Linked DNA regions of Homo sapiens. The protein of the gene in region 1 interacts with the protein of each later gene in a pairwise test. Each region holds a gene or a part of one and is shown on either strand. Other genes may lie near its edges.

Region 1 (7,023 bases):
GAAGATCTAACAACAAATGAAGAAGCAGTTCAGGATGAAATACTGATAATATATAAAGTGAATGAAGCTGATTATAAAACATGTATGAGAGCTGGATGTGGTGGTGCATGCCTATAATCCCAGCACATTGGGAGGCTGAGGTGAGAGGATAGCTTTGAGGCCAGGAGTTCAAGACCAGTTTGGGCAATATGGCCTGACCTGTAATTTTTTCCCCCCCGTGGGTACAAAGGGAAGGGAAACAGGATCTTCATCTTTTTTTTTTTTTTTTAATGTATGAATATAATTTTGAGTGAAATATATGCCAAAATTTTATGAAGTTTTTTTTTCTTTCAGTGCTTAGATAGATAAATGGTTTGCTTGCTATATAAGAACATAGGTTTGACATTTATGGATTTAACATTCCTGCTTTGACTATTCCTAAGTAACCTGGAAGGCTCAAGATAGGCAGAGGTATGTGATTTTGCTGATTTAATGTGCAGAAATGAGTCCATTACTTAGAAAATGTGCCTTGCCAGCTGCCCGGTTTATCTATCTCAGTACAGCTTTTTCTCTTTCTCTTTTTCTTTCTTTTTTTTTTTTTTTCTGTTTTGTTTTGAGACAAGTTCTCGCTAGACCTGGGTATGCACCCAGGCTAGAGTGCAGTGGTGTGATCATGACTCACTGCAGCCTCAACCTTCCATGCTTAAGCAGTCATTTTGCCTCAGCCTTTTGAGTAGCTGGAACCACAGACATGTACCATCATGCCCGGCTAATTTTTAAACTTTTTTACAAAGGTTGGGTTTTGTCCATATTGCCCAGGCTGGTCTCGAACTACTAGCTTCAAGCAATCCGCCCACAGCTCCCAAAGTGTTGGGATTACAGGAGTGAGCCACCGTGCCCAGTCTGTTTTTCTTGATTAATTCTTCTGCAGTACTTGCCATGAAGTAATAAACACTCCTTCCCTATTAAATATAGCACTTTGAAAGAAAGCAGACTAAATCAAGACTGTTGTTCAAAGTGAATAGATGGAAGAATTGATAGTTCTGTCAGGAAACAGGTTTTTGATATATTAAAGAATAGGATGTTTGACATGAACAGAGTTTGTCATTTTAAACATGGGGGAGAGTTAGGCAATGATATACATAGATGTGAGGATTGACAAAAATGATGTTTCTCTTCTTTAAAAATAACAGGATGGGCCAGGCATGGTGGGTCATGCCTGTAATCCTATGACTTTGGGAGGTCGAGGCAGGATTGTTTGAGCCCAGGAGTTCAAGACCAGCCTAGGCAATATAGCAAGACCCCATCTCTATTATTTAAAATAATAAAAATATTAAAAATTTATTATAAAAAAACAAATATCAGGATCATCTGTATTCAAGAAAAATGTACTGATAAGTAGGCTGCTGTTAATTTCTAGTAAAGAATCTAACTTCAAATCATACATAATTTTAGATAAATAGAAAAAATTCTGTATATTTTAACAGTATTAGGATGATTCTCTAAATATAGGCAAAGAACTGAAGAGTTCCATAGAAGGTGACTAACTATAAATGTATTATACATGACTGGAAAAGTAATGGCAAGCAAGACTTCAGAGCTGAGCTATCTTGATATTTTTATCCAGTGTGTGGGGTGTTACACATGCATCACAGCTATAATAGAGCTATCACATGGATCTTTTGAAAAACAAGATAGAGATGTTTTAAAGGCTTCTGGGTTTGATTTCTTAGTCAGATGCTGTGGTACTTGGCATTTAACAACTAGAATTCAGAATCCAGATTTTTAAAGGTGAATTATTTTAAATAACTGAGTTGTAATAGAGAAGTAATTTATTTGAAATTATTTTAGGAAATGGAAGATAAAGTGACTAGTCCAGAGAAAGCAGAAGAAGCAAAATTAAAAGCAAGATATCCTCATCTGGGACAAAAGCCTGGAGGTTCAGATTTCTTAAGGAAACGGTTGCAGAAAGGGGTAAGTTCTCATGGGTAATTTCCAAATACTTAAGCCCTACAAACTCAGTATGCTGACAGATTGTGAAACGGATATCTGTGCGTATAGCATTGTACTTTATCAGGTATGTACATATGTGTATATGTATCTGTAATGGGTTTTTCCAATATTTTGCAGTTTATAAATAAGCATTGTGAGAATCTACAACTCTTCAGCATTTTTAATAATAAACTATTTAAAGCATGTAGAAATAGTGCAGATATAACAGAACCCATATACCCCTTCCCAGATTTAATGTTTATATTTTGCCATGTTGGTTTCAGTTTTATCTTTCTTAAGAAAGAAAATGTTGTAGATACTGTTGAAACCCACCCTATATGTAAATATGAGCCCTTTCCCTTATCTCTCCAAAAGCAGCCACTATCCAGAAGCTGGTGTTTATCCTTCTGCCCATATTTTGAAACTTCCATATTTTTTGCAGGTGATTCCCACACAACATTCAAAAGCTTAAAATACTTATTTGGATGAAATGATCACTTAATAAATGCACAGCTATCTCCTTTATGTAATATGTTTCACAGTCAGATTTACTCTAATACAATTTAAACATTTTCATTTTCATAGTTCAAATTACTGAAGATATTATTTTCAAATTCTTGCCATGTTTTGCGAGGTAGATACCATTATTTCTCAATAATGAGATTGAGATAATGCTGGCCTGTTTGTTCCCTAAGTATTGTCCTGTGACCCCTTCCTTTGCTGTAAAAAATTAGAGAGTTCCATCTTCAGCTTAAGCATATTCAAATTACTTACTATACAGGGAAGGATGAAATACTACTTACGGAAGAGAATTGTTGAATGAGATGCTAAATCATGTTTCTCCTTAAATACATTCATATACTGATATCGGCTCCTTGCTTAAAACACGTCTGTGTGTGTATTAGCTCTAGGTACATATGGATTGTTTTAAAGTGGCAAAAAATAGAATGGTATTTTTAATCTTACATGAAAGAATAATATTCACAGCTTTGAAATACTAGGATGATGGAATAATGACACCAAATTTATGAAGATGTAAAACTCCCGTACCATGAAATATATAATCAAGTAGGGAAGTTATTACAAAAATGTTAGTTAATGTCTAAAATACATACAGAAACTTTTAAATATATGAAAGGGAACTTTTAAGTGTACAAGAAAAACACTTAAGGTGCTCCTGGATAAAGGATTTTAACAGGAAATATAAAAAACAGAGAAATGTTTATATATTATAGACATCAGTGAAATGCAAATTACATCATAGTATTTATATAACTAAATTGCAAAAATGTTTAAAATAATACCTATTGCTAAGGTTGAAGTTGAATGAAACTAATATGCTCTTTGTTGTGTTTAAACATTAAAAATTATTACTCGTTTCAGAACAGGGTATGGATTAAGGTTTATAAAAATGTTCTTCAAATCAATAATCTCTTATTTATTAATCTAAGAGTATAATTCAGTACAAGGAAAGTCTTCCAAGTTGGAAGGTCCTCCTTATAGCTTATAACTATAATTAGTAGCAGCACCACTATTCAACAGCAGAGAAATGATTAAATAAATTGAAGTAAGTCAATAAAATAGTATTATGTGGTTATTTTAGAACATAAAGATCATAATATAGGGGATAAATAGAAGAAGTAGAATGACAACTGTGTTTTTAGTTATGAGATAAATTATTTAATCTTTGGCTATTAAATTATTTTGATTTGATTATTGTTTAGGAAATATTTTCTTTGCTAATCTCCAGCATAACCTTGGCTAATAGGCTTTCTTCCAACATTGGGCCAATTGTCACTGTAATTTTTCTCTAGCTTGAACTATTTATTTTTAAGTATCTTCAAGTCAGATTTCATATACATTGTATCTTGGAGTTGGTGTTGTAGATATAAATAGTTGAGAATGAAGAAAATGCTACTGAATCAAGAAATAAGTAGATAGAATTTGAGAAGTGAGCTCTTTAATGATTCTGTATTATAACAGAATGTCAGTGAATAAGTTATTTTATATGAAGTTTTGATTTTTTTTAAAACTCTGGATCACAGGTTCTGGGTTTTAATTTTCCTCTATCACTAGTTAGCAAACTTGACAAATTACCTTAGCATCTTTAAGTAGCTTCTTAATTTGAGAAGGTTTGATTAGATATTATGATTATTATAATAGGTCTCTTCTTGTGTTGTACTCATTAATGTTATTATGAGGTTAATGTTATTATTAGGCTTTTAACAATATGACTGTGTACACATGACTACATAGATTATCAGAGCTGGGAGGGATATCAAGAAGCTGTGTGGCCTGTTTTTACATTTTTTATTTCTTTTTGCTTTTTGTTTTGTTTTTTCATATTTGTAGGGGTTGTGAAGTCCCTAGAAAACAGAGAATCCAGTTGTAAGAAACATGGCTTTAAAGTTGAACATTACCACTTTAGGTGATCACTTAGTGTCAGTGTAGTTGTAAATGCTGATGTAAGTATGGCCCATAAATTTGTGTGAGAGGAGGCTTTTATAAGATTGTCATCTAGATCATAATTAATTTTTAAATATTTTCATTACAAACTCATGAAATTTAGAGATTGTTAAAGACATATCATCATCGTTGTTATCTGTGGATCCCAATTTGATAAACATTAGTTCACTTCTCTATCTTAAAGCATTAGCTTCTTTCTCTGACATCTTTGTTGTTTTATTGTCTTTGCTGAATCTCTGCCTTTTGCAGTAACCTTTTCCTTTTTAGGGCAATTCTAATTGTCAGGCATTGATTTTAGTTTTATCTCTAGTCACACTAAATTTAATTCCTTTCCCCCAAGCAGAGTAGCCTAATCTACAGTTAATTGAGACCCCCTTGTGATGAACTTTTGCTTACTATAAAATTACTTACATTAGAAACTGCGTTTATTACATAGGGGGAAAATCTGCCTAAAATTTACATGTGTGTTAAATTTCTCAGTATGTGCTTCTGACAAAATAAGAAATTTGGCAGGCTGCTTTGTTCTCCTCTAGAGGCTACAAAATTCAGAAATAGCTTTTTAATATATTACAGTGCATCACAATTCTGAGGTTTTTCTGTCTGCTCATTTTAAAACATACAGAAGTGAAGCTGCAGAAAGCTTTAGATGGGCCTGTTCCAGGGTTCCTTGTTACTGTTCCGTATGGTACATATACAGTAATACATTAAAGCAGTTTCTGTCTTTAGGCCTTTGGGCCATAGACCAGGTCTGGCTTATCAAAAAGTGGTGGAGGAAAGCAGCCAATGAGACTTTTTCCTCAGGCCACTCAATAGTCTTATACTAAGCTGTGAGTTCCTAGCTATTTTGTTTTATCACATGAAGTATCCCTGAAGATATTAGCTTAAGATTCCATAAATATTATCTGTTTTCTTCCCCTTCACCCTTTGTCCAAGCCCTTGTTTCATACCTGGATTATTTCCTTTGCCAACCCAAGACTGAGATTAGAGCCCCCTTCTTTGAGCACCATATAGCACTGTGTGTGCTTAAGGCAGTATTGTAATTGTTGATTTACTTGACTATTGTCCCATCTTTGTATCTGACTCCAGCTCTCACATAGTGCCTCACATATAGCAGGCACTCAGTAAAGATGGGCTCAGCATGATAGGTGTAAGTTAGAACCCAGGCAAATTTATGTTTTTGCTCTGGAAGTCAAGTAGGTTAGTTGTATTAAGGTTGATGTTTAGCTCTCATCACAATTTGCATGTTAGTGGTAAAGGGCAGCTAAAAAAAAAGCAGTAGTCATACTTCATGTCTCTCTGTGAAAAATGGAGGAGGTGTGGAGTAGGGATATGCATTTTAAGTAATAATTTCTAGTGAGTTTATTTCTTTCATTACTCTAATATTTATATTTTTACCTTAATTTTTGGTAAACTGCTCTAGTTCAAATAAGTATGATTTAAATTCTTGCAGAAACACTTGTTCTAAATAACAGAATACCAGGAACTGTAAATAATAGTTTTAATAACTATAATTATGGGGGGGTTGGTTTTTTTGTTTTTGAGACAGAGTCTTGCTCTGTCGCCCAGGCTGGAGTGCAGTGGCACAATCTCAGCTCTCTGCAACCTCCACACCCCGGGTTCAAGCGATTCTCTTGTCTCAGCCTCCAGGGTAGCTGGGATTCCAGACACCTGCCACCACAACCGACTAATTTTTGTATTTTTAGTAGAGACGGGGTTTCACCATATTGGCCGTTCTGGTTTCAAACTCCTGACCTCTGACCTCAAGTGATCCACCCAACTCGGCCTCCCAAAGTGCTGGGATTACAGGCATGAGCCACCATGCCCAGCCAAATTATGTGTTTTATTTATAAAATAATTTAAGCAAGTGTTTCACCTGGTTGTTCCATTAGTAAATGAAAGATTTTATTTCACTGAGTCTGGGACTTCCCAAATAGCTTAATATTATATTAGTCTTGATGGTTCTTTATTAGAACCAGAATGGTTCAAGAAAGCCTGAAGGCAGGTTCTTTTTTTTTTTTTTTTTTTTTTTTTTGTGAGACAGTCTCTGTTGCCCAGGCTGGAGTGCAGTGGGGCAATCTTGGCTCACTGCAGCCTCCACCTCCCAGGTTCACATGACTCTTAAGCCTCAACCTCTGGAGTAGCTGGAGTTACAGATGTGCACCACCACACCCAGCTAATGTTTGTTTTTTGTTTTTTTTGTTTTTTTTTAGTAGAGACAGGGTTTCGCCATATTGGCCAGGCTGGCCTGGAACTCCTGACCTTAAGTGTTTCGCCTGCCTTGGCCTCCCAAAGTGTTGGGATTTCAAGAGTGAGCCACTGTGCCCAGTCTGAAGGGGGGCTTCTCGGCTGTTGACTTATGCTGGAACTCAGTACAGAGACTATTTCATCTAATTAATATTCCTGTTTAAATTCTTTTAGACCAACCTTATACGGACAGTATGGGGTTGCATCGACATCTTAAATCAGTAATTGCTAAGCTCTAATCTGAATTTTTTTTGTTTTTACTTATAGCAAAAATATTTTGATTCTGGGGATTACAACATGGCTAAAGCAAAAATGAAGAACAAGCAACTTCCTACTGCAGCT
Region 2 (7,326 bases), on another chromosome or scaffold:
GTTCTTCACCCTGCAGAGCTTCAGTGCCCAGGGCGTGCCGGAGGCTTTGGGAAGACTGGGGAGAGGAAAGAGTGAGGCTCAGAGAAGAAACCTGCCAAGCTCACACGGGAGGGGCAGCACGTCGACCCCAGGCCCATGGCCCTCTCTCTCATATTGTTGGTCCTCACTCCTGCCTCCCAAGCTCCCACACCAGCCCCCAGCTCCTGTCCCATCCTGCACTCACTGCGGAGGGAGTAGGTGCCTGGTTCCAGTTGCATCTGGGGAGGCAAGACGATGAGAAAGTCCCCACCCCAGGCGTTTTTGACCCTTGAGAGATAATTTTGGGAGGGAGGGCGATGACATTCAGAGGTCAGAGAAGGGCACTTGGATGACACAGGCTTAAGCAAGTGGCTGCTGCAGTGCTGGGGCAAACCACAGGGGGAACAGTGGGGCGGCGAGAGGCCAGGGCCCCGGGGAAGGCGAACAGGGACCTGTGGACAGACCCTCTGAACCCCACCATGGTGGGGGCGCCGGTCCCGAGTCCAAGCCCAGTGGAATGGCTCCTTTGCCATGACCTGGGAGGAGCAGAGTGGACAGTAAATGGGGTGGGAACCCCAGCCTTCCCCACACCCCAGGTTGCCTCCCAGCCTCACCTCCTCACAGCACTGGCGGCTCACAACAGCCCGGAAACCCATCCGTGCCCAAAGCTTATCCCTCTGGTGCAGGAATTTCCCCACTCGTAAACACCAATCTTTTCCCAGGGCCCATGGAAAAATCTCACATTTGGGGCCCTCCAGGTCCTCCTCCATGTCGTTTGCAAGGTACCTAGCCACAGAGGCACAAGGTCAGGGAGCAGAGGCCACACATCTGCCCTGTCCCATCTGACACCTCCAGCAAATGCCTCCACTGCCTGCCCCCACCACTCACAGGGCCAAGAACAGGCTGCTGTGGGTATACTCGCTGAGCTTCAGGTGGGCGCGCTGGAAGTAGACCAGCACCATGGCCAGGAGATACTGCAGAGACAGATCGGGGTGGGGGGTTAGTTATTCTCTGAGGAGGAGGGGCTTGCACCCAGGTTCATTTGCACCCAGGGAGGTTTTGCTGCAGGGAAAGAAAGTCAGTAAAATGGTGGGAAGTGGTGTGCAAAGATGAGGGGGTAAGGATGGAAGGTGAGTGGCTCTCCCTACCAGACCAGGGCACTCAATTCCCACCAACTCAACCTGACCCTCAAGAGACCCCCAGCCTGTACTCCCTCACCTTATCTGAAATCTGGAAGCAGGGGTCTTTGGAGAGGAATTCCTGGACAAAACTGTCCTCTGAGGGTAGAGAAGACATGACAGGACGCAGGTTACCACCACCTCCATGGAGAAGAGTGGCATCAGAAGCTCCAAAGCCCAAGCCACCACTGAACCCTCTCTCTCTTTCTCTTTTTCTCCCTTTTTCTCTTTCTCTCTCTCTTTCTTAATATAAATAGAAATGGAGTCTCACTATGTTGACCAGGCTGGTCTTGAACTCCTGGCCTGAAGTGATACTCCCATTTCAGCCTCCCAAAATGTTGGGATTATAGGTATGACTCACGGTGCCTGGCCCTGAATCCAGTTTCTGAGAGGACACCCCTCCCACCTGCCTAAGCTGGGATACCTGAGAGGGAGAGGGTCAGAGGTCTCAGATGTCTGTACAGGCAGGTGAGACCCCACACTTCACATCTGCTTTCACACTTGACCTCACGGCCCCTCCCGTGCCAGCCCTCCAAACTCACCCAGAAGGCTGAGGAAGGCCTGGACCTCCTGGTGCTGGCGAAAACGGAGGAACCCATTGCCCCCACCTTGCCGGCTGCAGCCCCCCAGCTCTACCTGGGTGGTAACTACAGGGGAAGTGGTGGGGTCTTGGGAGTCACTCATCTCATAGGAGATGGAGATGGGGCAGGGTGACCTGTAGAGAAAGGAGGCTCAGGACTTAGCATGTACCCCCGTGATGCTCACAAATCAAGAGGGTGGTGACAGGGGCCAGGACGGTGGAGGGGTGGGTGCAGAGACTTGGGGGCTCAGAACAGAAGGCAGCCGGGATGCAACAAGAGTGGGGAGGCCAGAAAAGAAGCAAAGAGTTGCTATAGGTGAGGGTGTGGCACCCTCACCCTCCTCCTGGCACCCCAGGACAGGCCAGAGTAACAGCAGCAACAAGCACCGCTGAGGGCTTCCTAAGTGCCTGGGGCTGTGCTTAAGGGCCTTATCTTATTCCATCCTGGTAAGGAGGTAAGTTTAACTCAGACCGGTCGTCAAACGAGGAAACTGAAGCTGAGGCCTAACAGCCGGTTAAAAGTGAAGCCCTTGGTCTCCAAAACCCCAAGAGGTTTTTTGGTTTTTGTTTGTTTGTTTTGAGACACAGTCTCTCTCTGTCGCCCAGACTGGAGTGCAGTGGCGCGATCTCGGCTCACTGCAACCTCCGCCTCCCGGGTTCAACTGATTCTCCAGCCTGAGCCTCCCGAGTAGCTGGGATTACAGGCATGCGCCATGCCACCACGCCCGGCTAATTTTTTTTGTATTTTTTTGGTAGAGACAGGGTTTCACCGTGTTGGCCAGGCTGGTCTCACACTCCTGACCTCCCAAAGTGCTGGGATTGCAGGCGTGAGCCACTGCGCCTGGCCAAAAAAAAAGAAAAAAAAAACCCAAGAGTTTAACTGCTCCTCTAGGCCCCAACTCACAACCACCCCCGACCCCTCACCAAAGCAGAGTTGAAAGGGCCACTGATCCCTTACACCGAGGGGAAACTGAGGCCCTCAGGGAGGAATGAAATTAGAAAAATACCTGGATTTAGAGCAAGTTGATGGGGCCACTTCAAACATTTCAAGCTCCCGTCCTAAACCCACCCTCATCCCTGAGAGAGAGAAGCCAACCACGGGGCCGAGGAGAACGTGCGGTCGACCACCCCAGGGCCAATCTGGGCCCCTCCATCTAGGCGCCCGCAAGCAACCCAGCCTCCTCCTGCAGCGAGCCTTACCCGAGCTCAGGAATGGCCCAGAGCATAACACCAACGCCGCCGCGAGTGCGCTTATATAGCCTGAGGGCGGCCCTGCCCAAAGCAGCCCGTCCACCAATCAGGGCCTTCCTGGGGGGCGAGGCTTGGCCTTCACCGCCTGCCTCTCTGCCAGTGAGTCCAGTCGGCACCCAGCTGTGGCTCCCCAGGGTTTGAAAGCCTCTCCAAAGCTTCATCAACTACAAGAGGGGTGAAGGCAGGCCAGCTGGACCCCAGGGCCTAAGGCCCCATAGGACAGGCAGGGAGCTAGGATCCCTGTTCCCCTCTTGACAAATGCAGCGCCAAGGTGCTGAGCCGGGATATGAGACCCGGACTGCGAGGGCCTGGTGGGCGAGTTTTTTTTCATTGATTGTGCCTTGCTAGGGCAGGGTCTCTGGCTCTCTATGGGTGTCTCTGAATCTCCTGGCCTCCTTGAGTCTCTAGGTTTCACTGAGGCCCCCCGAGTCTCTCTTTTGTTTCTTATTTTATTTTTCCCCTCGTAACACAGAACAAGCTGCCTGGGTCTCAGTGGGCCTCTGAGTCTCTCAGTTTCTTGTTGCCTCTGGTGTCTGGATGTCTGTGGATCTCTGGGTCCTTTGTTTTCTCTCTGATCTCTGGTCTCTGGTGTATCTGCTGTTTCATGGTCTCCCCCAGGCCGCCTCCCAGGCTCCCTGAGGCCGTGAAGGCCTTTCTAGACCAGCTGGTCTGCATCAGGCCATCCTGTTTGTGTGTGTGCACGCATTTGAAGTCGGCCTCCCCTAGAAAGGAAGTAGTGAGTGGGGCAGCATCCATAGCCCGTTCACTAAACACCTACTGCTGCCTACTGAGGAGTCTGTGATGGAATCAGCTCACGTGTTCCTCACAGCAAGCCCGTGAAGTTGATGAGAATGATGAGAAGCCTCATTTTGTCAGCGAACAAACAACTAACACACAGAGTTTGGGTTGCTGACCGACAGGCTGAGTAACTTCCTGCCAGCCACTCAGCTGGTAAGTAGAGATAGAGTTCCAGCCTGGCTGCTGGGCCCACACGCTGGGTAGCCTGGCTGTGTGGTCTACAGCTGTTCCTGGACGCTGCCTGCACAGAGAAGGTGTTCCATGAAACCGAATGAATCTCCTAGACCAGCTGTGTTTTCAACTGTTCTCCTCCTCCCCCAGTAATTAAGGTTAGAGATCAGGAAGGTGTACCAAAAAGAAGCCTGGGAGTGGGCTAGTCACTTTAACTTTGGGAGGGCCTTCAGGCTGATTTCCTTCAGTGCCACCCCTGGAGATCTGACACCGATCTCCCACACTGGGGAGAATATTTGTTTTTACTTTTTTTTTTTTTTTTTTTGAGACGGAGTCTCGCTGTGTTGCCCAGGCCGGAGTGCAGTGGCCCAATCCCGGCTCCCTGCAACTTCCACCTCCAGGGCTCAAGCAATTCTCCTGCCTCAGCCTCCCGAGTAGCTGGGACTACAGGCATGTGCCGCCATGCCTGGCAATTTTTTTGTTTTGTTTTGTTCTCCTGACCTCATGATCCACCCGCCTTGGCCTCCCAGAATGCTGGGATTACAGGCATGAGCCACCATGCCCAGCCTTTCTCTTTCACTTTTCAGAATCCCATGATTCACTGGGCTCTTCAATCTGCCCAGATAATCTCCCCATCTCAAGATCCTTAACTTGGCTGGGAGAGGTGGCTTACCCCTGTAATCCCAGCATTGTGGGAGGCAGAGGAGAGCAGATCACCTGAGGTCAGGAGTTCAAGACCAGCCTGGTAAACATGGCAAAACCCCTCCTCTACTAAAAATACAAAAATTAGCGGGGCATGGTGGTGCATGCCTGTAATCCTAACTACTCGGGAGGCTGAGGCAGGAGAATTGCTTGAGCCCTGGGGGTGGAGGTTGCAGTGAGCTGAGATCATGCCATTGCACTCCAGTCTGGGCAACAGAGCAAGACTTGGTCTCAAAAAAAGATCCTTAACCATCTGCAAAGTCTTTTTTGCCATGTGAGATAACATATTCTCAGGTCTGGGAAGTGAAATGTAGCCATCTTTGGGAGTCCATTATTCTGCCTGCTACAATTATCACAGCAAAATTTATTCTATGCTAACTAATATACTATTTATAAAATTTATATTCATGTAAATGTATATATAATTTGTAAAATCATATATTAATATTGCATGCTATAAAGGATACACGTAAAAGGATATAAAAGAATACACATAAAACATAATAACATACTACCAGCTCAAAAAATATATATATGGCCAGGTCCATTGGCTCACGCCTATAATCTCAGCACTTTTTGGAGGCCGAGACAGGAGGATCATTTGAGTTCAGGAGTTAGAGACTAACCTGGGCAATACATCAAGGCCCCATCTCTACCAAAAATAAACTAGCCTGGCATGGTGGCACGTGACTGCAGTCCTATCTACTCAAGAGGCTGAGGTGGGAGGATCACTTGAGCCCAGGAGTTCAAGGCTGCAGTGAGCTATTATCATGCCATTCTACCCAGCCTGGGTGACACAGCAAGACCCTGTCTCTAAAACATGAATAAATAAATAAATAAGAATATTAAAAATTTCAAAATATAAAGATAGAAAAAATAATATGCAATTACTAAAAGAAAGCTGGGATAACTACACTAATATATTAAAACAACTTTAGGCCGGGCGCGGTGGCTTATGCCTGTAATCCCAGCACGTTGGGAGGCCGAGGCAGGTAGATCATTTGAGGTCAGGAGTTCAAGACCAGCCTGGCCAACATGGTGAAATTCCATTTCTACTAAAAATACAAAAATTAGGTGGGTGGTAGTGGCGAATGCCTGTAATCCCAGCTACTTGGGAGGCTGTGGCAGGAGAATCGCTTGAGCCTAGAAGGCAGAGGTTTTGGTGAGCCAAGATTGTACCACTGCACTCCAGCCTGGGTGACAGAGTGAGAACTTGTCTCAAAAAAAAAAAAAAACAAAAAACAAACAAAAAAACACAACTTTGGACAAAAAGCATAACTAGGGAGAAAGAGAATTTATGTAGTGATTTTAAAAATATACAGCCGGATGTGGTGGTGTGCACCTGTAGTGCTGGTCTGGGCAACATAGGGAGATCCTGTCGGTAAGAAGAGGAGGGGAAGGAGGGGAGGGAAAATAAAGGAAAGGAAAGAGGCAGGAAGAGAAAAATAAAAGGAAAAAGGAAGGAGAAGAAAGAAAGAAGGGAGGGAGGGAAGGAAGGAAGAAAAAAAAGTGTATAATTACCTAACCAGAATCCAGGTAAAGAAAAAAATATATAGTAATTTGTTTACTCCTAAAAATAAAGTCAATAAGCAAGAAACCGCATGTGTGTGTGTCTGTGTGTGTGTGTGTGTAAAATCAACAGAACCACACGGAAAAACAAATCACAATCATAATTGTAGATATGATGGCACATGCAAGGCAAAAAAGTTAGCAAAGCAGTAAAAGATATGAAGAATATGATGAAGAAATTTGACCTAGTGGACGAATAAGCTGGCACTGCACCCAACAAAGGCAGGAAAGCACGCACAGAACATCTTCCTAAAAATTAATCAAATGTACCCGGGCGAGGTGGCTCACGCCGATAATCCCAGCACTTTGGGAGGCCGAAGCAGGCGGATCACAAGGTCAGGAGTTAGCGACCAGTCTGGCCAACATAGTGAAACCCCGTTTCTACTGAAAATACAAAAAGCCGGGCGTGGTGGCGGGCGCCTGTAGTCCCAACTACTCAGGTGGGTGAGGCAAGAGAATGGCGTGAACCCGGGAGGCGGAGGTTGCAGTGAGCGGAGGTCGCGCCACTGCTCCAGCCTGGGTAACAGAGCAAGACTCCGTCTCAAAAAAAAAAAAAAAAAAAAAAAAAAAAAAAAAAAAGAAAAAGAAAAAGAAAAAGAAAGAAAGAAAATATTGTCTGTCAAAGTTGGAGGACACAACTAGTAATTCTTAGAGAGGAATTTATGACCTCAAACGCGCGTGTTAGAAAATAAGAAAAGCTGTCACGCTGATGAACTGAACTCCATCTTAAAAAGTCACAAGCCAGCCAGGGGGACTTCCGGGTCCTGAGGCCCAAGGGGCTGCCTGGGTCCCCATCCGCCAACTTTTGCTGTCCACACAGCCCCAGACAACAAGAAAGGAAAAATAAAACGCTGCCAAAACCACAGCGTCGGCATAACTTGAAAGCAGAGAAGGTCCAAACTTCAAGATAAATGTAAATAAAAAGAAAGCGACCATATCCCCGCACGCCGTCGTGCGCTGCGGCCTCTCCCAGGCACGAGGCTTTGTGCCAAGAAAAGCTGGGGAAGGAGGGGAGAAAGGAGTATCGATCCGGGCTGGGGTTGGTCGAGAGCAACTATC

Evidence for each region. Proteins that work in one complex are often made in the same cells at the same time.
Region 2: the proteins of ARPP19 (region 1) and SPDYC interact in binary tests that used the Homo sapiens proteins (3 or more experiments, as listed by UniProt).

The regions. Positions count from the first base shown.
Region 1 is NC_000015.10:52,552,030-52,559,052, reverse strand, and holds part of ARPP19 (cAMP-regulated phosphoprotein 19), read left to right. Parts: intron 1-1,830; coding exon 1,831-1,953; intron 1,954-6,948; coding exon 6,949-7,023. UniProt on the Homo sapiens protein: Protein phosphatase inhibitor that specifically inhibits protein phosphatase 2A (PP2A) during mitosis. Inhibition of PP2A is enhanced when ARPP19 is phosphorylated.
Region 2 is NC_000011.10:65,165,912-65,173,237, reverse strand, and holds the start of SPDYC (speedy protein C), read right to left. Parts: upstream 3,006-7,326; 5' UTR 2,977-3,005; intron 1,912-2,976; 5' UTR 1,881-1,911; coding exon 1,739-1,880; intron 1,296-1,738; coding exon 1,237-1,295; intron 993-1,236; coding exon 907-992; intron 805-906; coding exon 633-804; intron 555-632; coding exon 224-554; intron 56-223; coding exon 21-55; 3' UTR 1-20. UniProt on the Homo sapiens protein: Promotes progression through the cell cycle via binding and activation of CDK1 and CDK2. Involved in the spindle-assembly checkpoint. Required for recruitment of MAD2L1, BUBR1 and BUB1 to kinetochores.